Homo sapiens: one gene and its partners. The protein of the gene in region 3 interacts with the protein of the main gene of each other region in a pairwise test. Each region holds a gene or a part of one and is shown on either strand. Other genes may lie near its edges. The genes, in order: MPHOSPH6, CAPN2, NUPR1 and NACA.

What was found.
Region 1: the proteins of NUPR1 (region 3) and MPHOSPH6 interact in a two-hybrid assay, tested with the Homo sapiens proteins (2 studies listed by BioGRID and IntAct).
Region 2: the proteins of NUPR1 (region 3) and CAPN2 interact in binary tests that used the Homo sapiens proteins (3 or more experiments, as listed by UniProt).
Region 4: the proteins of NUPR1 (region 3) and NACA interact in a two-hybrid assay, tested with the Homo sapiens proteins (one study listed by BioGRID).

What each region holds. Positions count from the first base shown.
Region 1 is NC_000016.10:82,167,200-82,174,825, reverse strand, and holds the start of MPHOSPH6 (M-phase phosphoprotein 6), read left to right. Parts: upstream 1-4,601; 5' UTR 4,602-4,650; coding exon 4,651-4,701; intron 4,702-7,626. UniProt on the Homo sapiens protein: RNA-binding protein that associates with the RNA exosome complex. Involved in the 3'-processing of the 7S pre-RNA to the mature 5.8S rRNA and play a role in recruiting the RNA exosome complex to pre-rRNA; this function may include C1D.
Region 2 is NC_000001.11:223,715,511-223,722,543, forward strand, and holds part of CAPN2 (calpain-2 catalytic subunit), read left to right. Parts: intron 1-2,251; coding exon 2,252-2,321; intron 2,322-7,033. UniProt on the Homo sapiens protein: Calcium-regulated non-lysosomal thiol-protease which catalyzes limited proteolysis of substrates involved in cytoskeletal remodeling and signal transduction. Proteolytically cleaves MYOC at 'Arg-226'.
Region 3 is NC_000016.10:28,532,197-28,536,040, reverse strand, and holds the end of NUPR1 (nuclear protein 1), read left to right. Parts: 3' UTR 1-3,333; downstream 3,334-3,844. UniProt on the Homo sapiens protein: Transcription regulator that converts stress signals into a program of gene expression that empowers cells with resistance to the stress induced by a change in their microenvironment.
Region 4 is NC_000012.12:56,722,268-56,729,369, reverse strand, and holds the start of NACA (nascent polypeptide-associated complex subunit alpha), read left to right. Parts: upstream 1-4,070; 5' UTR 4,071-4,107; exon of another isoform or gene 4,108-4,408; intron 4,409-4,820; exon of another isoform or gene 4,821-4,846; 5' UTR 4,847-4,848; coding exon 4,849-4,918; intron 4,919-7,102. UniProt on the Homo sapiens protein: Cardiac- and muscle-specific transcription factor. May act to regulate the expression of genes involved in the development of myotubes.

The DNA of each region.
Region 1 (7,626 bases), about 54 Mb from region 3:
CAGAAAGAGGGAGCACATTTTGCGAGATGGATTTGATGTTGGACATGAGTTCGGAACTCACACTCAACCATTTGTCTGTCCTTCCAGCTGTCTCAACAGAACTCTCATCCTGCTTTAAGTGGATATGTCCTTGGCATTGCTGTTGTGGCTAGTATAGTGACTATCTCTGAGGAACAGCACCCAATTTCTCTTTAAAGAATTACCCTCCCCCATTGTGTATAGTCTTCTTGAAATTGTAAATCAGGTCCTGCCCTCCCTTAGCTGAGACATAACAAAACTCTCTCCTTGATTTTGAAAACTTGAGTAAAGTGTCCAAAGAGCAGAGAAATCAATTGGTGCTCACCATTCTTGCTGTGTCATTAAGTTCCTTGGAATGCCCTGGTTTCTGTTCTTTTAACTTAGCCTTGTTATCAAGCCTTCTCAACACCTATGAACTACCCAGTATCCTTCTAAATCACCATTTTGTTTAACAAGTCTTTTCAATATCTGGTACCTACAAACAGACAAATGAACAAAAACTAATACTTAATATACCACCTTCATTGTCTCATTGCATAAAAGAGTTCCTTCCTGTGCTCACCCCAGATTCTCCTCCAGTTTCTGCACTAGGAAGGTATGCATAGCCATTGCAGTATTTAAAAAAAAAAAAGAAAAGAAAAAAATGCAAGCCACACATGTAATTTTATATTTTCTAGCAGCCACATTTTAAAAAGTAAACAGAAACAGATGAAATTAGTTTTAAGGCTATATTTTATTTAAACAAATATATCTTTATTATTAATATATAATATGAAAAAATATTGAGATTTTTTTTAGAGTAAGTCTTTTGAAGTGTGGTATGTCTTTTACACTTACAGCACATCTCAATGCAGATGCTAAATTTTGAAAAGTTAAAGTGATATATGTTCCTTCCAAAACAATATAGCCTCATATACAGAAAAATAACTCACACTGTTACTTTTAACATTTAAATTGCTGGGCATGGTGGCTCAAGCCTATAATCCCAGCATGTTGGGAGCCCAAGGCAGGCAGATTGCTTGAGGCCAGGAGTTCGAGACCAGCCTGGTCAACATGGTGAAACTCCATCTCTGCCAAAAATTCAAAAATTAGCTGGGTGTGGTGGTGGGCACCTGTTATCCCAGCTACTCAGGAGGCTGAAGCATGAGAATTGCTTGAACCCAGGAGGCGAGGTTGCAGTGAGCCAAGATTGCACCACGACACTCCAGCCTGGGTGATAGAGCAAGACTCTGTCTCAAAATAATAATAATAATAATAATATAATAAAATTTAATTTAAATTAACTAAAATATTCAGTTCCTCAGTTGCACTAGCCCCATTTCAAGTGCTCACTAGTCACATATGACAAGCATCTATGCACTAGGCACCACAGCCTTAGATCTGCTATGGGAGTGAAGAGTCACAGGGAACCTTTTCTTGATGGATATAGTAGTTGGCAGGAATTGGAGGCTTTCATACTTCCAACAAATTCCATTATGACAGGACTCAAAACTGTGTGAAGACCTATTTGAAACATTTCTTCCCTCAAAATGATGTTTCTTTGGCTGGGTAACTACAACAGGTTAACACATTATTGATTGTGAGATCTATCCTCTGTGCTCTGCAATTCAGGTGCATAGAAAGATCAAGGAATTATCTTGTCAGGTAGTTTTCAAAGTTAAAATTACACTATTACTCTTAAATCACTTCTCATTTATAACATGTTGAGGGGTGGGAAAAGACTTGGGGGATTCATTTTAATTATAAGGATTTTCACCATCAAATAGAAAAATAGAATTTTGAGTGGCAGGTTGAAGAAGGTGAGCTTTATCTCTCAGACAATAACAGATATTGTAAATTTTAGAGTGAAAGAATAACATAATAATGTCAATGTTTCAGAAAAACAAATCAGAACACAGACTGGTACAACAGGGGTCCATAGAGAAGGTGTGGCGCTTCCAGCATCCTTACATGATAGATATATGCTCTTATTTCGCCGGGAATGCTGTTTTCCTCTTCTGAAGCTGACAAGACATGTGTTCATCCTAGTTCAGTCGCCCCTTAGTTTCCCAAGTGCAGAAGGCAGACTGAGTCACTTCTCCCTTCACCTCTACTCTCACAGCAGTTCTTTGAGAATCCCACAGAAAAACCAAACTTATAGAGACAGAAAGTAGTCGTGAGGACCTGAGGAATTAGTGTTTAATGGGAACAAGAGTTTTCATTTTGCAAGATGAAGAGTCCTATGGTGGTAAAAGCAGCATAACAATGTGAATGATTGGTGGGCCTTTTCCCTGATTAACTCCTCTCTACGTTTAGGAGAGTCCTCATTTCCAGGCCAGAATGGTTTAGGTACCCTCGTTGTACCCTTTCATGACCCTCAAACTTTCCTTACCGGGCTCTCATCACAACTGTCATCTACAGCTAATTGTATGGTATATTAGTCTGCTACGGTTACTATAAGAAAACACTACACACTGGGTGCCCTATACAGACTGGTTGTGATTTTCTCACAGTGCTGGAGGCTAGAGGTCTAAGATCAAGGTGTTGGCAGGTTTGGTTTCTCCTGAGAGATTTTTTAAATTTTTTTTATTTTTTTGGCTTTCAGATAGTCTTTCCTTTATGCAAACACAACCTTGGTGTCTGTGTCCAAATTTCCTCTTCTTATGACGACATCAGTCAGACTGGATTAGGGCTCACCCTAAGGGTCTTGTTTTAATCACCTCTTTAAAAAGGACTGTCTCCAAATACATTCACATTCTGAGGCACTGGGAGTTGGAACTTCAACATATGAATTTTGGGGGATGCAATGTGGCTTATGATTAACCTCTACTGTTTCCACTTGTAAAACTTTTAACACGGACTTTGTCTTGTTCATATCTGAGGACCTTTACAGTTGATGCTGTCTTCTGAGCACACTCTACCTCCAACTCTTCATAAAACACGTTTTTCTCAACTTTCAAGCCTTAGCACCATCATCTGACAAGGGCCGTTCCAAACCACCTGGTCTAAAGTAACCCTAAGCGTTACTCTGTCACATCACTGTTTTCTCTCTTTCATAGCAGTCGCCACTTACTTACGTCCAGAATATCAGCTTCAGGAAAGGTGGGGATATGTGTTTTTACACGCTATTATACCCCCGGCATCTCACACACAGTCACAAGTGAATGAGATTCTGTAGCCACTTGGTACATTACAATGATTTTATTTACCCCTGGGAAAACCTAAAGGGCTTTTAACATCCAAATCGGTGTTTGAATTTCAGCTCTAACATGGATTAGCTGTGTGAACACCAAGTGCGTTACCCACTCTGTGTCTCAGAATCCTTAACAACACGATGACAATACCTTCTTTCCGGTTCTTATGGGGATTAAGTGAACTAATTAGCCCTAAGGTGACCAGGTCAACAATCTGACGTAGAACTCATGGTATCAGCCGAGATGCTATTAGCTTGAGGGTGTTCCAAAGCGTCGGACCTGGGAATGGTTTTCGAAAACGTGTTTAGGTGGTACCCAGAGCATTAAACACCAGGGTAGGAACGCTACCCTATTTTCAGTGGTTTTTTAAATTCTTTTTTGTTTTGTTGTTTTGTTTTTGAGACAAAGCCTCACTCTGTAGCCCAGACTGGAGTCCAGTGGCGGGATGTCAGCTCACTGCAGCCTCGACGTCCCGGGTTCCAGTGATTCTCCAGCCTCAGCCTCCCAAGTAGTGGAGACCACAGATCCGTGCCACCACACCCAGCTATTTTTGTTGTATCTTTTGTACATTTTTTGTATATTTTGTATATATTTTTTGTATGTATATTTTGTATATTTTTTGTGTATATATATATATATATATATATATATTTTTTTTTTTTTTTTTTTTTTTTTTTTTTTTGTAGAGGTGGGGTCTCCCTATGTTGCCCCTCGCTATGGTCTTTTCAATTCTTTGGATCAAAACCAGGCTTTGTTCTCATTCATGTGTCTTTGGCACCCATCCCTGCCTCCATCCCTTGCCATTTCTTGAGATTCTTCTGTTTAGCAGAGATCACTCGGCCAGACACGCATCGGCAGCAGCCTGGGAATGAAGCCAGCCTGCCTGGGGCGGCCCCCGCCGCGCTCCCCCGGGACTCCGGGCTGCTGTGAGGAAAGCAGCAACTCGTGGGGTCCTGGTGAAGAGAAAACGACCTGGACCCTGCAAAGCGACCCAGAACAAAGGGAGCCCGCCACCCACGTTATGAAGACAAAACACGTGGGTAACACGGCCCAGGCGGGTGGCAGGCGTGGCGGAAACCTCTCTGAGGCTGGCGAGGACTACTGAGTGTGGAGGGGGTCCCTGAGGAAGGGAGTCCCCGAGGGAGGATGGGCCTCCGAGGGGGCCAGGCCGACGTCCCGGGAAGGCGACCCGCGGCTCGGGGAAGCCAAGTTCTGGGTCGTCCTCTGACTTCGGCTTTTTTGCGGTCTGCCGCGCTCATCCCCGCGCCCGCCACCCCGCGAGCTTACCCGAGCCTCTCAGTCAGCAGAGCGCCCGCTGAGTGGCCGCGCCCGCGCGCAAGACACAGGGGAGGGGCGGGGCGGGGCGGCGCGCACTACGCGAGGGACGCAGCTGCGCACGCGGCTCCGCGCATGTGCGGTGAGGCTCGCGGCCGGAGTGCGGCGCTGGGCGGAAGCTACCATGGCGGCCGAGCGAAAGACAAGGTTGTCCAAGAATCTACTGCGCATGAAGGTGCGGGGACGCTGAGAGCGCCACTCCGGGCGGTAGGGGCACCCGGTCCTTCCAACCTGGCCGGGGCCGAGGCGGCGGGCGGACAAGGGACACCAGAGAGGCCTCAGAGGGCTTCCAGCTCTCGTGCTCATTCATTCACTTAGCGCCTGCTCTGCACTGTTTACTGGGAACCAGCTTACGAATTAGGCCGACTCTCTCAGGAGGCCCGCGGGCGGATGGGAGCTTGAGTACACAGAAGCAGTCAGGGTACAGCTTACCCAGTGCAGTGAGGGTAGAAGCGCTGGGGACCTTGGGGACTCACCGAGCTTCTCGAGAAGTTGTTGCTTACTTATATATGCAATAAATATGATATATGGGAAGTGTAACTCCTTAGCTGGGTAATTTAGGTAAATTCACTTCTTTCTCTGAATATCTCTTTTCCTCATCTTTAAAAAGAAGAGCATTAGGCTACATGAGTTCAAGCTCCTTTTTAATTTTGATAATACTTCTTTTAGTAGAGTTCTTCAGAGAAACAGAATCAACAAGATGTATATGTGTATATATGTGTATGGAGAGAGGGGGTATTTTTAAAACTGGATCACACGACTGTGGAGATGCAAGTCTAAAATCTGCAGGGTGGGCCAGTAGGCTGGAGACCCAGAGAAGTACTCAGTCCAAGTCCAAAGACAGTCTGCTGGCAGAACTCCCTCTTCTTCCAGGGAGAAGAGGGTGAGTCTCGCAGGGTAGTCTCTAGGTTACTGGGAGGGTGGAAGGCACAGCGTCCTAAACTAGGAGAAACTGAGTTCAGAAGTCTGAGAGGCAAGAAAGAAAAAGAAAACCATGGAAATTTCCAAGAATTAGAGACAATTCAGTATGTCTGGAAGGCAAGTACTAAGAAATGGGGTTGCAGAGTAGGCAATGGTCACAACGTGCAGGGAATTTGAGGCCAGATTAAAGATATTTTCCTTTATTTTGTGAGCAATGGAAAGCTATTGAAACGGGGAACAGTATCAAGAAAATGGCAAATATTTATAGTACTAGACAATGATTGAAGTGGTTTGCGTATATTAACCTATGCAATTCACATAATGACACTTTGAGGTGACTACAGGCAGTAACTCTCTTCTTACAGCTAAGGCAACTGAAACAGAAATAAGTAATTTACCCAAAGTTACACAGCTAATAAGTAGTGTAGACAGGACGGGAATTCAGGCAGTCTGGCTCCAGAACCCTGGCTCTTTATTACTACTCTGTACTCTGTGATGCCTGTCACTAAGCACTACTTCTAGAGAGTAGCAAACTGTTACATGTCATGTTTAAAGAGGTGGAATTTCCAAAAGAGGGAAGGAAGCATTCATAATGTTTTGAAAGATAGGCCATTCGCAGTGGCTCATGCCTGTAGTCCCAGCACTTTGAGAGGCTGAGGTAGACAAATCGCTTAAGCCCAGGTGTTTGAGACCATCCTGGGCAACATGGTGAAACCCCATCTCTACAAAAAATACAAAATATTAGCCAGGCCTAGTGGCACGCACCTTTAGTCCCAGCTACTTGGGAGGCTGAGGTGGGAGGATCACTTGAGCTTGGGAGATCAAGGCTGCAGTGAGCTGAGATGGCGCCACTGCACTCCAGCCTTGGTGACACAGGGAGACCCTGTCTCAAAAAAAAAAAAAAAAGAGAGAGAGTAAACATTATATGGGCAAGATTTGAATGGAGTTGAGCTAGGATGGAGTTAGGGATGAATGGGTGAATGAGGGTGGAGGACAAATTGCAGCATAACTTAGAGTTTGTCAAGCACTTTCATGCATATTAGCAAAATTTGAATCTTTACTGAACAGAGTTTGATTTTATGGTTGGTAATAACATTAACTTCAGAGAAGTGGAGTGAATTGGCCAAGCAGATATTGGAAAGATTTTAGCAGTTGTTTTAGCTCTTGGAATAAGCCAGATGATGTACTGGGTGACTCAGGCTCAAACTAAATATCCGAGTTGCAACTAAGAAGAAAGAAATTAACTTAAATGTCCACCCCCACCAAATGGGGAGACTCAACTGGACGTTGGAAGCAAAGGAGAAGGAAAAAGATCACCCACATTCTCTATTTGGTTTAGCAGCTTTGGTCATTGATAAGAAAAAACTTACTGGCAAGATAGCAGGAGACACTGTCTATACTGATAGAACAGAGTATACTGTGAGAAGGCATGGAGTAGCTGCACTTAGGGTGCCTTAACCAGAGCTAAGTCCTATATAGCATGGGTCCCCAACCGCCAGGCCATGGACCAGCACCAGTCCATGACCTGTAAGGAACAGGCTGCACAGCAGGAAGTGAGCAGCGGGCAGGCAAGCGAGCGAAACTTCATCTGTATTTACAGCTGTTCCCCATAGCTTGCATTACCACCTGAGCTCCGCCTCCTGTCAGATCAGTGGCAGAATCCTAGATTCTCCTAGGATCAGAAACCCTACTGTGAACTGTGCATATGAGGGATCTACCTTGCGCTCTACTTACGAGAATCTAATGCCTGATGATCTGTCATTGTCTCCCATCACACCCAGATGGGACTGTCTAGTTTCAGGAAAACAAGCTCAGGTCTTCCACTGATTCTTCATTGTGGTGAGTTGTATAATTATTTCATGACATATTATAATATAATAATAGAAACAAAGTGCACAATAAATGTAATGCACTTGAATCATCCCTAAACCATCTACCCTTCCCCTCTCCACCACCCGTGGAAAAATTGTCTTCCAGGAAGCCCATCCCTGGTGCCAAAAAGGTTGGGGACCACTTTTTAGGCAAGTATAAGAGGGTTGAGGATTTAATCCTGACTCACTTCAATGCCTCTGACTTGGTCAGCCATTGCAGGGTGATCCTAATGGGAAGAAGAAAAAGAAGGATGTGGATGGAAGGTCTTCCAGTATGGAATGGTTGTAGAGGGTGCTTATTTGTGATT
Region 2 (7,033 bases), on a different chromosome or scaffold from region 3:
AGGTTAGCCTTGCAGCAGGAGGAGCTGCTCTTCCTCGGAGAGAGGATTTCACAACACTGGCAAGAGTGGCTCCAGTGCCTGGAGCGGGGATTAAAGCAGTAAGTCCAGTGGGGTCCAAGGGCCATGCAGGGGTACAGTGAGGAGAAAGCAGGTGTGATCCGGGTGGCACATCAGATCCTTCCAGCAACCAGTCTGTTAGGAGCAAGGGCAGATGTTGTGAGCCCCTATGTTTCCCCCAAGAAAATCAAACCTCTGAGAGGTTTCTCACTTGCTTATCTTCAGCTGGCCGAACTCAGCCTCAAACCCATATGTCCTGTCTCCAAGTTCAGTGACTGTTATCATCAACTTCTTCAACAGTAATAATAATAGATCACATTTATGGAGTGCTTGCCAGGGCATGTTTACATCATTATCTCATTTAACACTCAGAACAATCCTCTGTGGTGGGTGTTTTCATCGTTCCCATTTTGCAGGTGAAAAAACTGAGACTTCAAAAGGTTAAGTGACTTCCCAGGGTCCTACGACCTACATAATAAGTGGCAGAGCCAGGATTCAAACCTAGGTTATCAGAATAATGCAGCAAAGCCCAAACCCTCAGCCCCTTTTCACTGACTGGTAAGACCCATATTTAATTCGATGCCCTACATGCCGTGCACAAGTTTCAGTTTTCTGAAGCATCGCTTAGATGCTTAGGTGTTTAGCACCACTCTGAACTCTGACTTTTCTAGAGAGGCTGCTAAAGGCATTAGAAAGTTTCTGAAGTATAATGGAAAAACCCTGCTGGAGTAAGTGCCTGGCACACTCAGGATTATCAGTGTGATTCTTTATAATAAACAGGCTCCCAGCACCAAGCCCAATCTATTCCATCAGCTGGATAAGAGCTCTCTGGCAGGCCTTGGGCCAAGCTGGCTTCCTTTGCCTCAGCAGAAGAGCATTCTGATTCTCTCTGCCATCCCCAAAACTGACAGGAGCAGAGAGAAACAAGGCAGAGGCATGAAGGGAATGTCCTCTGCGGCAGATGGTGCTTCCGGAAGAGCTCCCACAATCTGAGCTAGAATGAACAGGGGCTAGATCCAAGTCTCATATAGGCATACTTCTGCTTGACAGAGTGGGCATGCCGAGGGCCGTTGGGTGGAGGCAGGCGTGTGCAACCCAAGCAGACATGAGACGCAGCTCCTTCAAGGCAAGGTTGCCTGAGCCCAGAGAGGCTCAAATTTGTGCCCCAACTTCCTCTGTGGCTTTTGGGTGGGGCTCTTCAGAATCGAAACACACTCAGAGGGCTGCTGAAAGGGCTAAGAAGTGTTCAAGGTTGGCTTCCATCAGGCTGCTCATGACAATGGCCCCTGAGGTTTTAACACCCTTGAACGCTTGGTACTAAATCAATTAGAGGCAGGGCAGGAGCAGAAAGAGTTGGCGCATTTGATCAGTAAGTTCCAATGCCAGTGCTGTCTATTATCTGTGAACTGTGTTAACTTTGGACACGTCACTTCACCTTTTTGAGCTGTTTCCTCGTCTGTAAAAGGGGGATAATACCCATTCCATGAGGTAAAGCTTTGAGCACAGTCTCTGATGTAAGCAGGTACAGAATATATAGATGCTGTAAGTTTCATGGTCCCATGGAAGAATTCAAAAGGGTTAGATCCCGCCTGCCCTCAAAAGGGTATGTGTTAGGAAATCAGAGTAATACCTAAGTAGTAAATTGCAGAGTCCAGAGACTCTGGGACTCAGACTTGAAGGGATGAGTGAGGATTGGACTAGGACGACTTCACGGAGGAGGTGACAATGAGCCTCAAGGTATGATGCAATATGGAAAAGGAGGGAAGAGAGTGGGAAAGGAAGGAATTTCATGCAAGCAAAACAACTTGCATGCAGTAACAGAGGAGAGAGGATGCTAACCCAGTGGATAGGGTGGCTCTAGAGTGTGGATGGTCTCCACGTCTGGCAGAAAAGGCTGGACTTGCTGCTGTGGCCCCCGGGACACAGCACAATGAAGGAGGCTCCAGGCAGTCCAGAGTGTGCAGGGTCCAATGCCTGCCCTTCTCAGACAGGACCACCCATCCACCCATCAGGGCCCAGGGAGCAGGGGTCAGAAGGACCTCATGACACAGAGTTCTGACTGTGATGACACACTTTCCCCAGAGGGGAGGGGAAGGGGAGAAGGGGTTAGAAGACCCCACTGAGAATGGAGGCATCCTAGCTGCAGAAGCACCTGGCTGGTAGGCTAACAGCACTTTGTGGGTCTCGTTCCCAGGAGATCTGCGCTGACCCCCAGTTTATCATTGGAGGAGCCACCCGCACAGACATCTGCCAAGGAGCCCTGGGTAAGTGATAGATTCAGAGCAAGCTGGGGGATCTTGTCTGTAAGGCTGTGGGTGGAAGAGATGAGGGACAACCTGTGGCTTCTCTCCCTTCCCAAGCAGCTTGGCAATTTCTATTTGCAGAGAAGCTCCATGGAATTTCTTGGCCCTAGCGGGCAATGATTCTACCCTCAGCCCCATGCTGGGGCACACAAATGAGGCCTCCTGTGTCCCCTGCACAGGGCTAGTTGCTGAGGTTACAGAGATGCTGCCACTAGGAGGACCAGGGGGCTTCTGGATGTCAGCCACCCCTTGGTATGCACCTCCTGGAGCCAGCATTACCAGTGGTTCACGAAATACACTCTGGGCAGAGGACTAGGTGGGAGGACTCCCCCAGACCAATGACAGCACTGAGACATCAGTTCTGTGAGGTTCAGGAACCAGGGAAGGTGACTCAGTGTAAAGAAAGAGGAAACTCTAATGCTCGCTGCTGAAGGAAGTTATAGTACCAGGGCATTCTCAGTGTTTGCAAGACAAGCTCACCATGGTATCACAGTTGTAACGCTCATTTAAGTAAAATGAACTGGAGTAGCTGAATTGTCCAAAACCTTGCTTTCTGGAGCCGAGTTCAGATTTGTTTCTGGAGATAGTCCTTGTTGAAGGTTTCAACCCACAGGGTTCTCCACCTTTAGTATGAAAATTCCCAAAGCTTCTAGGAAGTCCCAGCAATGGGGCCTGGCGCTGTTATCTAAGATTCTCATAGAATCTGCCCTCAATGTTCTTTTACTCATAATAAATGTGGGCCTATAATTACTAGAGCAGATTATTTGCTCTGATAAACCAAAAATCTATTTTCTGCCATCAGCCTCAGCTGGCTGGCTCCCCAGACAAGTTCATCAGTAGCAAAATCAGTCAACTAGAGTTGTACCTCCTGTCCTCACCCACCTAGCAGAGGTTCTGTTACTCATATACTCCTAATACCAGCTGATAACAGCTAATATGTATCTCTAAGGCACCGTGATTATTCCCATTTTATAGATGAGGATGCAGAGGTCTTCCTACAGCTAAAGTGGTGGCTGGTACCCCTGACCCCAGGGTATGTTTAATTCCTGAGCTAGACTCCCTAAGACGGGACCTGGAAAATTTTCTAGCCCTGAGGAATGTCAGAGCATCATGTGAATCATTAGGACAGACAGACTGTGAGGAAGAACATGAGCTGGGCGGGAAAGTTTGTCTGAGCTCAGGCTCTGCAGATTCCTGAGATGCCAGAGCACATTCTTACCTGCAGAAAACACTCCTTTCATTTCTTTTCTTCTCGCCCCACAAAAGACAGAAGATAGAGGTCCTTGAGCACCCAAGGCGGATCCTCCAGGAAAATCTATTCATTAGAGAAAATGGAATTGATGGAAACTTTGACCAACCCCGGGGGCTTTAGAGAATCCAGAAACAGCCGGCGCAGTGGCTCACATCTGTAATCCCAGCACTTTGGGAGGCCGAGGCAGGCAGATCACCTGAGGTCAGGAGTTAGAGACCAGCCTGGCCAACATGGTCAAACCCTGTCTCTACTAAAAATACAAAAAAATTAGCTGGACGTGGTGGTGGGTGCCTGTAATCCCAGCTACTCAGAAGGCTGAGGCAGGAGAATTGCTTGAACCCAGGAGGCAGAGGTTGCAGTGAGTAGAGATGGCACCACTGCACTTCAGCCGGGGTGACAGAGAGAGACCCCATCTCAAAAAAAAAGAGAGAGAATCCAGAAACAAACACAGCAACTGCCTAACATCTGCTTCAGAGTTTAACAACACCTTAAGTGCCAAAGTGTAAGCAACAAATACATGATTTAAGTCCTGTGTAAATACCACTGGGCCAATTGGAGAGGAGATAGCAAAGGTTAACATTCCTGGGAGAAATTTCCCTCCCAGGGGAATTATAAACCAGGTGAAATGTAAACCTTTTAAAAATTTCTTAGTAGCTAGTCTGTAATTTCTCAGGGGTGTGTGCGTGTGTGTGTGTGTGTGTGTGTGTGTGCGCGCGCGCGCGTATAATGCAGTATTGGTCATTTTGTTCTTTCAGCCTTTTATTTTGGAGGACTCTAGTTAGATCACAATCTGTGAAATGTGGTATACTGTACTCTCACCCTGATTCTGGCACCTGGCCAGCGGGTGCTGATGGGGCCTTGACCTTCACCAAATCCCAACAGCCTCACAAGCACCAGGAACAGAGGCCATGGCAGTGACACTCTGTGACATGGCCAGAGATATGAGCCTAGACTCAGCTCTGTTGGTAGTCCGAAGACTGGGCAAGTAATTACCTGGAACTTCCATCTGGAACCTCCGTCTCTTCCAAAAACGGAGAAGGAAGGAGGGTAAATGGAGTGACCTCAGACACCCCCTATGAGTTTGTATTCAGCTATTCTAAAGCCATTCCCGGGTTTCTAACCAGCTACTCCTCATTCCTTGTGCTAGAGGGTTAGAGCACTACAAGATCATCCTTATTTTCTCTCTTTCTCTCTTTTTTTTTTTTTTTTTTTGACAGGGTCTCACTCTGTTCCCCAGGGCTGGAGTGCACTGGCAGGATCTTGGCTCACTGCAGCCTTGGCCTCCTGGGCTCGAGTGATCCTCCCACCTCAGCCTTCTGAGTACCTGGGACTACAGGCACACGCCACCACACCTGGCTAATTTTTGTATTTTTTTGTATAGACCGGGTCTTGCCATGTTGCGCAGGCTGGTCTTGAACTTCTGAGCTCAAGTGATCCACCCACCTCGGCCTCCCAAAGTGCTGGGATTACAGGCGTGAGCCACTGCGCCCAGCCAAGATCATTCTTTTATTACACACAGAAGGAGTAATAACAGTACCCATCACCTGCATAACAGTATGCAATTCATAGAGCATTTTTTCACTACAGTATTTCATGTACTCATCCCAAATCTAAAGTAAATATTCTCACCTCACTGTACAGATAAAAAAAAACTGAGCCACAGAGACGGGAGAGTAAGTGTAAAGCCACACAGCTAGTAATTGCCAAAGGATTGAACCCTGGTCTGATTTTGAATCCTACACTCTTCCTAACCCATGCTCCCTCCAATTTGCCATAGTGCTGTGCTGAGGAACCATTCTCAGCAAAATTCATCTTCTCTACCTGCGCTTTCTACCCTGAGCCTTACTCAGTTCCCCCAGGGAACTTGGGCAGGTGACATTCTTAGACTTGTGCACTTTGCAACGCCCTGCCCTGTTTACTGTGCTGCCCAGCAATGTTTAATCCACAAACACCCACGCTCCTTCCCAGAAGGCTCAGCTTCCAAGCTTCACCAAAGTCATTTAAACCATGTTTACAGAGCTGCTCTCACCAAGAGCCATCTCCATTGCAGAATATAGTTGTGTAAGAATTGATTCAGCAGAGAAAAATCTGCCCTTCTGGAGGAAGGGCTGGAGACCCAGCTGGAGCCTCCACTGGCTGACCCTGCAGCTAAATATGGCTCTGAAATCGTGGGGTAATAACCACATTCTTACAGGTGCTTGCCACTTGAAATGGCTCCCAAGGACCCAGGAAACTCCAAGGCTGAGCTGCTCCTACCTCTGATGCTTTACTTTGCACTGGGTCACCACTGAGCTTTCCCCACAGCCTCACAGCTCACGGATGAAGGCAGCTACCCCAGCCAGGAAGGCATAGGTCACCTTGCAGGCCTCTGATTTCCTGGGGTAGAGCCCAAGGCTGCCAAGGCTGTTGAAACAGCACACCCCCATTTCATTGTAACCCAGCAAATGTTCCCTGGGCCCCTCAGAGGTGGGTCAACCTGCCTCCTTCTCAAGATGTCACATGGACCCCCAGAGCACCCACTGGGAGGTGTTTAGCTACAGGGTGCCCCACCCCACAGCCTAGCTCAGCAGAGAGTGGGGAAGGGACAAGACCAATGGGAAAGGCAAGCCAGATGGGGAATTTTCCAGTCCTGTTCCTTCTACCACTCATTAGCCACTTATTTGGACCCAACCCCTCTGAGCCTCAGTTTCTTCTTCTGTGAAATGGGAATAATGATAAGGATCCCTTCCCAGGGCTGTGGAGAAAAGTGAGATTTATACAGGCAAACACACTTGGCACACTATAGAATCCCAGACAAATTCAAGGGACCAGGATTATCATTACTGATTCCAGTTATGTGAAAAGTCCTTTTGCCAAATTGCCGAAGAAAAAGAGGATGGTGGAGGAAGAGAAAAGGAGGAGAAGAAAATAAGTTGGGTTGGAAACCAGATCCTTGTCCTTGAAAATTTCATAATCTAAGGGTGGAAATGCCAAAACGAGGAGAGACAAACTTGTGGCCTGTGTTTGGGTAACACACAGATTGAAACTCAGAAGGAGAAACATATGGGGAGAAAATGAACACAAAGGGGTCAGATGTGCATTCCTCAATTTTAAAAATTGAATATTTAAGTGTTTTAAATAATTTTTATTTCTTTTCCTTTCTTTCTTTTTCTTTCTTTCTTTTTTTTTTTTTTTTTTTTTTTTGAGACAGGGTCTTGCTCTGTTGCCCAGACTAAAGTGCAGTAACAAAACCATAGCTCACTGCAGCCTCGACCTCCTGGGCTCAAGCAATCCTCCCACCTCAGCCTTCCAAGTAGCCAGGACTACAGGCACGCACCACCTCACCTGGCTAATTTTTGTGTGTGTCTGTGTGGAGATGGGGTCTCACTGTGTTGCCCAGGCTGGTCTCAAGTTCCTGGGCTCAAGCAATCCTTCTGCCTTA
Region 3 (3,844 bases):
ATCATGTTGGCCAGGCTGGTCTCAAACTCCTGGCCTCAAATGATCTGCCCACCTCAGCCTTCCAGCCTTTGGGAGGCCAAGGAGGGAGGATCGCTTGAGGCCAGGAGTTCGAGACCAGCCTAGGCAACATACCAAGGCCCTGTCTCTACAAAAATTTAAAAATTAGCAAAGCATGGTGGCTCATGCCTGTAGTCCTAGTTGCTCAGAGGCTGAAGTTGGAGGATCCCTTGAACCCAGTTGGAGGCTACAGTAAGCCATGATGGTGCCACTGCACTGCAGCCTGAGCAATAGAGTGAAACCATGTATTGAAAAAGAAAGAAAGAAAGAAAGAGAAAAAGAAGGAAGGAAGGAAAAGAAAGGAAGGAAGAAAGAAAAGAAAGAGAGAAAGGAGAGAAAAAGAAGAAAGAGAGAGAAAGAGAAGAAAGAAAGAAAGAAAGAAAGAAAGAAAGAAAGAAAGAAAGAAAGAAAGGAAGGAAGGAAAGAAAGAAAGAAAGAAGGAAAGAAAGAAAGAAAGAAAGAAAGAAAGAAAGAAAGAAAAGAGCGAGCCCCGGCACAGTGGCTCACACCTGTAATCCCAGCACTTTGGGAGGCCAAGGCAGGCGGATCACCTGAGGTCAGTAGTTCGAGTTCGAGGCAGAAGTTGTGGTGAGCCAAGATCACGCCATTGCACTCCAGCCTGGGCAACAAGAGCAAAACTCCATCTCAAAAAAAGAAAAAGAGAGAGAAAGAAAGAGAGAAGGAGGGAAAGAAAGAGGAAGGAAAGGAGGGAGGGAAGGAGGGAAGGAGGAAAGGAGGGAAGGAAATATTAAGGGATTTGCCCTAGCTCACTCAGGGCTCATATTCAGGGATCTTATTGTCTTCAGATATGAGGTGGGTCCCCAGGCCAAGGGGGCTGTGGGACAGGGTTCTGGGAAGTGAGATGGGGGAGGGAGATTCTTATTCAGTGCTATGTCTCAGGACCAGAGTTGAAGAAAAATATGGGGCAAACAGGAAGTGTGGTTGGAGCTGAGATTATTTGTTGATTGAGATACAGGTTTGGGTTGCTATTATGAAGAATCAAAACAGGATACAAAGTTACTCCTCTCTTACTTAGCCCCAAGTCCTCCTGGGTTCAAATGGCAGCTCCATTGTGTTGAGGATTCCAGCTATTTTTACTCACTGTTCTGCCACACCCAAAACATGGCTTCCACTTTGAGGCCCAAAATAGCTACTCCAATACCTGCCATCACGTTTGCATCTCAGCCTGTGGAAAGAGTGTGGAAGAGACAGAGGAGGCCACACCTCTTCAATTTTAGGGCATAATCTAAAAGTAGAACACATCACATCTGCTCCGAATGTGGCTACATGGCCACACCCAACTACGAGAGAGGTTGGGAAATGTAGCATTGAGCTGCTTAGCCACGTGGTAGCCAAAACTTGGGCAACAGCAGGGTTTTATGATGAAAGGGAACCAGAGAGAGTGAATACACGAAGAAGCTAGCAAGAAACATTGCCCACATGCAGACTCAACAGATGTCGGGGGAGAAAACTCTGAGATTGGGCCCCGGGCAGAGCCTGTTTCCTTTTCCCCTGTCCCTTTCACATAAGCCCCACACTGCAGAACTTGGAGTCAGTGGTTCATGGGGACCCAAGGACATCCACAGAAGACCGAAGTACCTGATAGAGCAGGAACAGATGCACGTCAGACTACGACCAGCTTGAACCCTTGGGGACCTGTATCCATCCCCTTCCCTTGAGTCCAGCCTAATCACAGCCACAGAATGAATCCATGACCCGGAAGGACATTTAAGGACCTCTGGCCCAACTCTCCCCACGCAACAGTGGGATTGCCTCTGCTTGTTTGAATACCACTATGGAGGGGGAACTTGCTACATTTAAAGGTTGCTGAATTTTTTTGTTTTGTTTTGGGAGATGGAGTCTCTCTCTGTCGCCCAGGCTGGAGTGCAGTGGTGTGATCTCGACCCACTGCAACCTCCGCTTCCTGGGTTCAAGCGATTTTCATGCCTCAGCCTCCCTAGTAGCTGGGACTACAGGTGTGGGCCACCACACCTGGCTAATTTTTGTATTTTTAGTAGAGACGGGGTTTCACCATGTTGCCCAGGCTGGTCTCAAACTCCCGACCTCAGGTGATCTGCCTGCCTTGGCCTCCCAAAGTGTTGGGATTACAGGCTTGAGCCACACCACCCGGCAAAGGTTGCCTAATTCTATCTCAGGGCAAGTCTGTTCATGTGGGCTGAAATCTGTCTCTCATACCTGCCCTTAAATAAGCTTCTGTTTTTCTGGTCCTTTCTGTCTGAGATGACTTTAATTCCTCCCCCGACCCCATCTCATGAGGCTCAGCTTAGATGTTTCCTTCTCTTCCTCCCTGATGGCTGCGTGCAGAAGCTCATACCTGCAATCCCAGCACTTTGGGAGGCCGAGGTGGGAGGATTGCTTGGGCCCAGGAGTTCTAGGCCAGCCTAGCAACACAGCAAGACCCTCTCTCTACAAAAAATTAAAAATTAGCCAGGTGTGGTGGCTTGTGCCTGTGGGCCCACCTACTCAGGAGGCTGAGGTGAGAGGATCTCTTGAGTCTGGGAGGTGGAGGCTGCAGTGAGCCATGATCTCACTCCAGCCTGGGCGTCAGAGTGAGACCTGTCTCAAAAAAACAAAAACCAAAGTTTTCCTTAACTTGCAATCCTCCACCCATCTCCTGACCTCCACCCCAGGCCGACCCTCCTCTGGGATCACACGGAAGCCTGGGCCCAGAATCTTACAGTCTACCTTGGAAATCCTTCAGATTTTGCCTCCAACTCCTCTTTCCATACAAGTTACATATTAACTCAATCAATGCTTATTGGATGCCTTCTGAGTTACCAGGATGCTGCTGGAGGCCTGTGCTGCTGAGAGGGACAAATAGAATCCTGATATGACTGGAACCAGGAATAGGGCCACCATCAGCTCTAGAACCCAGGGAGCAAATGGCAGGAGCAACACCAGGCAGTCGGCCCTCAGCCCAGCACAGACCTGGTGTGTTGGCTTCAGAAAATCCTGGAAACATCTCTGCTGTGTTTGGAGCTCCTATTCTGTGAGAAGTGTTTTATAGGCTTTGCTCCATTTAATCCTTACGATAACCCAATAGGACATACTATTAATGATCCCCTTTTTTTCAGACCGGAAAACTGAGGTTCGGAGACATTAAGTAATTTGCCTAAAGTCACACAGCCACATCCTGTAGGACTTGGAATTATGAACTCAGGTCTATCTGAATTTTAAAGCCTGGATTTTTCCCCCTTTGCTACATGCCTGGGAAGAACCATGTATTGACAATGAAGAATCCTAAACTCTCGTTAATTTCTGGTCAATTACTCCTCTGGGCCTGGGTTTCCTCACCTGTCAAATGGTGAGACTGGCCTCTCTTCTGTCAAAAGAGAAAATGAAGGCTGGGAAGCACTGTGTCCCTAGCTGGAATGGCCACTCCCTGTCCTGGGTCCTTTGACACCAGCCAGGAGTCCTCACACACTGCCCCTCCCTCCTGGCCTCTGATTGGCCTTTCCTGGCCTCGCCCTCGCCTGGCACAGCCTCTGCCTGAGAGGCCTTTAAGTGGCTGTTCTGGGAATTAAGGCAATTCTTGGAATTGCAGAATTTTTGGATCCGAAAGGATCCTACCCAGACTCTTCCTCTTCTGTCTCCATCCCCTTTCCTAAACCCTTTCTTTTTCTTCTGGTTGCATGTCTGTTTCCCCATTTTGGGGGGATCCCCCTGAGAACTAGAGAAATCACTGACCTCTGTCCTACCCCAGGGGCTTACAGAATTGGCCCTGTCAGGCTTCTGTAACTCAAAGGACTCCCGACTCCTTGCAGAG
Region 4 (7,102 bases), on a different chromosome or scaffold from region 3:
ATACAAAATTACTAGAGACTCATTATTCCAGAACTAATCAGTAAAGAACTCAGAAGGAGAGTGGAAAGACTGGTATGCTTTTAAAAAGAGACTTTTTTTTTTTTTTTTTTTTTTGAGACGGAGTCTCACTCTGTGGCCCAGGCTAGAGTGCAGTGGCGCCATCTCGGCTCACTACAAACTCCACCTCCCAGGTTCGCGCCATTCTCCTGTCTCAGCCTCGTGAGTAGCTGGGATTACAGGTGCGTGCCATCATGCCCAGCTAATTTTTTGTATTTTTAGTAGAGATGGGGTTTCACCGTGTTAGCCAGGATGGTCTCGATCTCCTGACCTCGTGATCCACCCGCCTCGGCCTCCCAAAGTGCTGGGATTACAGGCGTGAGCCACCACGCCCGGCCTCAAAAAGAGACATTTTCAGCTTTCATTATCATTTTATAAATATGTCTAGCATTGAAGTGCCTTAACTCCTGGGCTCAAGGGATCCTCGTGCCTCAGCTTCTGGAGTAGCTGGGACTACAGATATGCGCCACCTTGCCAGGCTTACGTTTTATTTTGTTGTGGAGACGGGGTCTTGCCATCTTACCCAGGCTGGTCTCTAATTCCTGAGTTAAGCAGTTCACCTGCCTTGGCCTCCCAAACTGCTGAGATTACAGGTGTGAGCCACGGCGCCCAGCCAATGTTTAGTTCTTAAAGACAGCAAAAATATACCCAAGGACTACTGACTTCCCCTTTTCTTGATTTGCCAATTCAGTCACATATTAGAACTGTAGAAACAAAGGGGCAAAGAAATGGCTTCTATCTTCAAAATTGCCAACTTAAGAAACACGCTAGCCGGGTGTGGTGGCTCACACCTGTAATCCCAGCATTTTAGGAGGCAGAGTGGGCAGATCACTTGAGGCCAGGAGTTCAAGACCAGCCTGGGCAACATGGCAAAACCCCGTCTCTACAAAAAATACAAAAATTAACTGGGTGTGGTGTTGTGTGCCTGTAGTTCCAGCTACTCGGGAGGCTGAGGTGGGAGAATCGTTTATGCCCAGGAGGCGGAGGCTGCAGTGAGCCATAATCACCCCACTGTACTCTAGCCTGGGCAACAGAGCCAGACCCTGTCTCAAAAAAAAAAAAGGAAAAAAAAATACATCCTTCCTTGGCTAGTCATTACTACAGAGAGAGGAAAAAGTAAGTGGGCTTGCTGGGGAAGAAAGAAAAATTGTGAATATGTACTTTTGTCTAAGGAAATTGGCTATTTCTGGTCCTTCTGAAGGTAAATGGACTAAAGGACTGCATTGAAAATCTTCCAGATCATGTATTTATTAGGTAGAAATTGATTATGTCTACAATTTAATAGTAACAAACTTTTTAAGTTTTATGTAAAGATTACATGGGATAATTTTATGAGATAGACTGTTTCTTTTTCCTTCCAATTAGAGTGTGAGTGTGTGTGTGTATATATACACACAGACTAATTTAATCTTCCAAACAATCCTATCAAGCAGCTACTATTTTTCCCATTTTACAGATCAGGAAACTGACATGAATATATATATAGGTTAATTGCCTAAACTGACCTAATAGATTTAGACAAAGGAGTCTTATTTCAGAGTCTGTCTTTAATGACTCCACAATATTGCCTCTCCTATTTGAGGAGGATTTCAGAATTTCCCATTCCTGGTAAACCCCACTATCTCACTTAATTTTAATTCACCAATCCTAATCCTCATTTCACTACGCTAAGGATTTCAGAAATGTTAAAGTAGCTTTCAAAGCATTTTAAATTTTCACTGCTTCCCTTAAAAGGCGGCCACACCAGGTATGGTGGCTCACACCTGTAATCCTAGCACTATGGGAGGCCGAAGCGGGTGGATTGCCTGAGCTCAGGAGTTCGAGACCAGCCTGGGCAACACGGTGAAACAGGAGAAGTTTTGTGGCAGGAGAATTGCCAGAATCCGGGAGGTGGAGGTTGCAGTAAGCTGAGATCGCGCCACTGCACTCCAGCCTGGGTGACAGCGAGACTCCGTCTCAAAAAAAAAAAAAAAAAAAAGGTGGCCACAGTCGTCTTAAAGCTATTAAATCAGGCCAGGCATAGTGGCTCACACCTGTAATCCCAGCACTTTGGGAGGCTGAGGCAGGCGGATAACCTACGGTCAGGAGTCCGGGCGGGGAGGCGGGTACCTATAATCCCAGCTACTCTGGAGGCTGAGACGAGAATCGCTTGAACCCGGGAGGCCGAGGTTGCAGTAAGCCGAGATCGCGCCACTGCACTCCAGCCTGGGCGACAGAGCGAGACTCCGCCTCAAAAAATAAATAAATGTTGACTGGTTTAGCTAATTCAGGTACAGCAAATATTTGTTGAGTTCTTTTGTAGGGCTGTGGGAAGATATGGGAGGCTTTTCATTAACACAACACTGATTTTACATTCTACTTTTCAAAAATACAGTTGTACAAAGCATGGTTTAAGGTGGGGTCCCAGACACCTAGAATAAATAAGCTTAGAATATCCAAGAAGTGCCAGGGGCGGTAGTTCACGCCTGTAATCCCAGCACTTTGGGAGGCCGAGGCAGGCGGATCACCTGAAGTCAGGAGGAGACCAGCCTGGCCAACATGGAGAAAGCCCGTCTCTACTAAAAATACAAAAAATAGACTGGCGTGGTGGCGCATGCCTGTAATCCCAGCTACCCGGGAGGCTGAGGCAGGAGAATCGCTTGACCCGGGAAGGGGAGGTTGCAGTGAGCCGAGATCGTGCCTTTGCACCCCAGCCTGGGCAATAAAAGTGAGACTGTCCCAAAAACAAAACAAACAGGCTGGGCATGGTGGCTCACGCCTGTAATCCCAGTAGTTTGGGAGGCCGAGGCAGGCGGATTACCTGAGGTCAGGAGTTCAAGACCAGCCTGGCCAACATGGTGAAACCCGTCTCTACTAAAAATAAAAAATTAGCCGGGGGTGGTGGCACACACCTGTAATCCCAGCTACTCGGGAGGCTGAGGCGGGACAACTGCTTGAGCCCTGGAGGCGGAGATTGCAGTGAGCCGAGATCGTGCCACTGCACTCTAGCCTGGCCGACAGAGCGACTCAAAAAAAAAAAAAAAAAAATCCAAGAAGTGCCCAAAATAGCAAGCAAAGGAATTGTATATGTGCCTATGTTCTTTTTTTCTGGGAAGGAGAATCTGCAGCTTTATAATTTCAACATCGGCTAAATTGTCGTGAACCTAAAACAATCAAAAGGGCCGGAATCTATTTAAAGAGTTTATTCAAGGGCAGTGTGAGGATGGACCAACCAGAAAACCTCCAAAGAATGGAGTCAGCCTTCAGAAGTAGAGAAGTTACGATTTCATTTATTTAGGGAGACAGAGGAGTTTTTAGCTGGATTACGTTATCCATACAAGGTTGGAACATAATTACAGAATTTGGTTACAAGAAGTGTTTTTTTTGGGGGGGGGGCGGGGGTACAGCTAACATTGTTTTACGAAGAGTTTAACACGCATGAGTTGCTGTCATCTGGTGACATCGTTTGAGTCTCTCTAGTCATTGAACAGAACAAGAAAAATCGAATTAAATTTATAATCTGAACTGAAGTTATATGTGACCCATCACATCTCTCAAGTTTTAAAATGGGTTTTTTTGTTGTTGTTGATGGGGGGGGAGAGGGTCCAGCAGCTTTTAAATGTTTTCACATCGTGTGTTCCAAAAATAACTGGTTAGCCTAAGTCACTTCCACCCTCCAATGTTGTGAATGCAGTCTCTAGCATTCGCTATTTAATGTCTTCTTCCTGCACTATTTGAGAAATCGCGAGGTCGACTTAATACCGCAGTCGCCACTTCGCGGACCGGAGGGCGGAGTCTGCTTAGTTCTGAGGACTGCGTGGGTCCGCGCAGAGAGCTCCTGCTAGGCCTGCGCGTCCCGTTCTAAATTCTTACCCTTTAGTCCTTGTCACCACCCCCGCCGTGGGAACGGCCTGACAGTCACTCGTCAAAGGAAGTGGCTGCCGGCAGCTCTTGACCCGGAATCGGATCCTAGTCCCACCCCCTCCGCTCCAGGCTTCCTTCTGCAACAGGCGTGGGTCACGCTCTCGCTCGGTCTTTCTGCCGCCATCTTGGTTCCGCGTTCCCTGCACAGTAAGTACTTTCTGTGCCGCTACTGTCTATCCGCAGCCATCCGCCTTTCTTTCGGGCTAAGCCGCCCCGGGGACTGAGAGTTAAGGAGAGTTGGAGGCTTTACTGGGCCACAGGGTTCCTACTCGCCCCTGGGCCTCCGGACAAAATGGGGTCTGCGGTTGGTGTCCTGGCAAAAGCAGGGTAGAAGGGCTGCGGGGCGGGCCCAGAATCCGAGCCTGCAGAGATGGGAGCAGTTGCAGTGTTGAGGGCGGAAGAGGAGTGCGTCTTGTTTTGGGAACTGCTTCACAGGATCCAGAAAAGGGTAAGGGGTCACAGCCTTAGAACCTGTAACACCGTTCTCCCTGTGACAAGCAAGTGTTGGACTTAAAACACCGTCTTTCCCCTCCTGGTACCCCAAAGTCGGCAAACGTAGTCCAGGAGGCCCCAGCCCAGCCAGTGTGAGTATTAGGAGTGGAGGGGGTTCACAGTAGCGTCTGAAGTCTCCCATGATCGAGAGCCAGCCCGGGATCCTCTCCCTCGGGTTGAGAATGCAGTGGGAATTGCTGGCCTTGATAGAGGCGTGAGGGTCACATCATATTTACCTCTTATTCCCAGGTGCTTTGGGGAAGGTTGTCACCAAACACCCTCACGATTTTTTTCTAACAGCCCTCCTCGGAGTTTTTAAGAATACTTATCTCCGGGTTGGGCAAGTGAATGTATCCCAATCAATTTAGGCCTCCTTTTTATTCCCTTCCTTCAGAAATGCCCGGCGAAGCCACAGAAACCGTCCCTGCTACAGAGCAGGAGTTGCCGCAGCCCCAGGCTGAGACAGGTAGGTTTCCCTACCCTCCTTGCCATTAATTAAAATTAACCCTAAAGCCATTTGGTGGGCAAAATGACCAAGGGGAAATACACTTTTTAGGAGGATGGGGTTGCAGCTTTACCAAGGAGGATAGACCGTAAAATTACTATCCTGGAGATACTTCTTTAGGGATTTGGAGTAAAAATAATATTTTTAAGATTCGTGGACGTTAAAAGTACCCTAGCTTGCTTTCTATGTTATGCCTGTCGCCTCAAAAGAAGCTCTCCTGTGGAACCCCCACCTCACATAGGAAAACTCAGCAGGGAATGGGCTCAGTGATTCTTACCTATTGGAACTAGATGACACAGGCCAAGGAGCCCGGAGCATTTGTGAAACTCCAGCCAGCAAGTTGCATCAAGGTTTTAGTTAGCAGAGCTTGGCATTGTGCCTTTATCACATGTCTGGATGAGATGTGTGCTGGTGGTAAATGTGTCCTACTGGGCCCCAGAGTCGTCCTAGGTCGGATAACTTGTTTATGGGTTGGTGGTGCTGAGATACTTCTAGTGTGCTGGAATAGTTCCTGCATCATTGTGTGAAACCCAGGATTGAAATAAATCCTTTTATCCTCAGCGTCGAAATTAACGACTGTGAAGGCTAATTTTAAATTCTGGTTAAAACATATCTCTGTAGAAAACTTAGGAGGAGGTAATGAAAAGTTCTTAAAATGATAGCCTTTCTGAGTCAGTTGTGCAGCGTTAAATGAAGGAAATCTTCAGGCTGTAATTTTCATTCTCACCTTTTTGGTTTTTTTTAAATTTCATTTGTTATTTAAGGGCAATTCCTGTCCCTTTTTGGAGTTACAGTAGAGTTGCTTATAGTTGAAAGCATAAAGTTTCTTCCCACCTGTTTGATTTTAACAGCTGAAGGGATTAATACAGCTGCTAGGAAGGACAATAGGGGGCTCTAAGCTGGAGTATAAACAATATGAAATTCTTGAAGTACAAGGGGCTTAAGGAAGGGAAAAAATAAAGTACTGTTCTCTAAAGATTCTGTAATTTCAGTACAAAACGAGATTTTAGAGATTGTGTCATTGAACAACTTAATTTTACAAATACGAAGATTTGAAATTCAGATGAATTTAGAATAATCTGATTCAAGCTTCAAAACTAATGCATTTACTTCTGAAACAGTCCTTAATGCTATTAAACGTATTCCTGAATAGTCTGAGTTGCATAGTAGGCTTATATTAAGGAAGTACCAATGATAAATACACAAGGTTTTATCTGTAATGATAGTCTATTAGAATGAAGAAGGAAGCTCAAGGAATTGTTGATGGTGTCAAAGCAAGTATTTGAGTGCTTATTCCATTTGAGGTCCAGTCAGAAGAAAACATATTCCATGTTTTTAATTCTGATTCATTATGTTTGGTAGCGTTTTCCTGTAATCGTTAGACTTTGGCCTACCCACTCTCCAGGAAAAACTAGTTGAGCCACCTTGTCTTTTCCATGGTAGGATGCCATAAGAACTTCAGAATTACTGGTTGAGTGAATTTTGAATTTGAATTTTGGTACCACGGGCTTCCCCCCCGCCCCCCTTAACATTCCCTTCTAAGCATTGAGCATTTGTTGATCCAATTCTGTGTTACCTCCTGAATGCCAGAGATACTGTCTTACTGTCATGCCAAACATTGGTGTATTTTGACATAATGAAACACTTAAATTCCAAGTTAAGGAGTGGGGATCCAGTGTATTCTCGCCACTCCAATTGTCTTCTTTGGTTTGTTTTGTTTTGAGACGGAGTCTCACCCTGTCACCCAGGCTGGAGTGCATGCAGTAGCGCGATCTTGGCTCACTGCAACCTCCACCTCCTGGGTTCAAGCCATTCTCCTGCCTCTGCCTCCTGAGTAGCTGGTATTACAGGTGTACACCACCACGCCCAGCTAATTTTTGTATTTTTAGTAGAGACGGGGTTTCACCATGTTGGTCAGGTCGGTCTGGAACTCCTGACCTCGTGATCCGCCCTCCCAGGCATCCCGAAGTGCTGGGATTACAGGCATGAGCCACTGTTACAGGCTCTCCAATTCTCTTCTTCCAAAATAGCACCACAATCTGGTTTAACAAGTTAGGTTACAGTTTCATAATACAGTCCCTACCCTTGTGAGTAAGCTCTCTGCCTGGAGGTCTAATTCATGTCTAATTCATCTTGGATTGATGT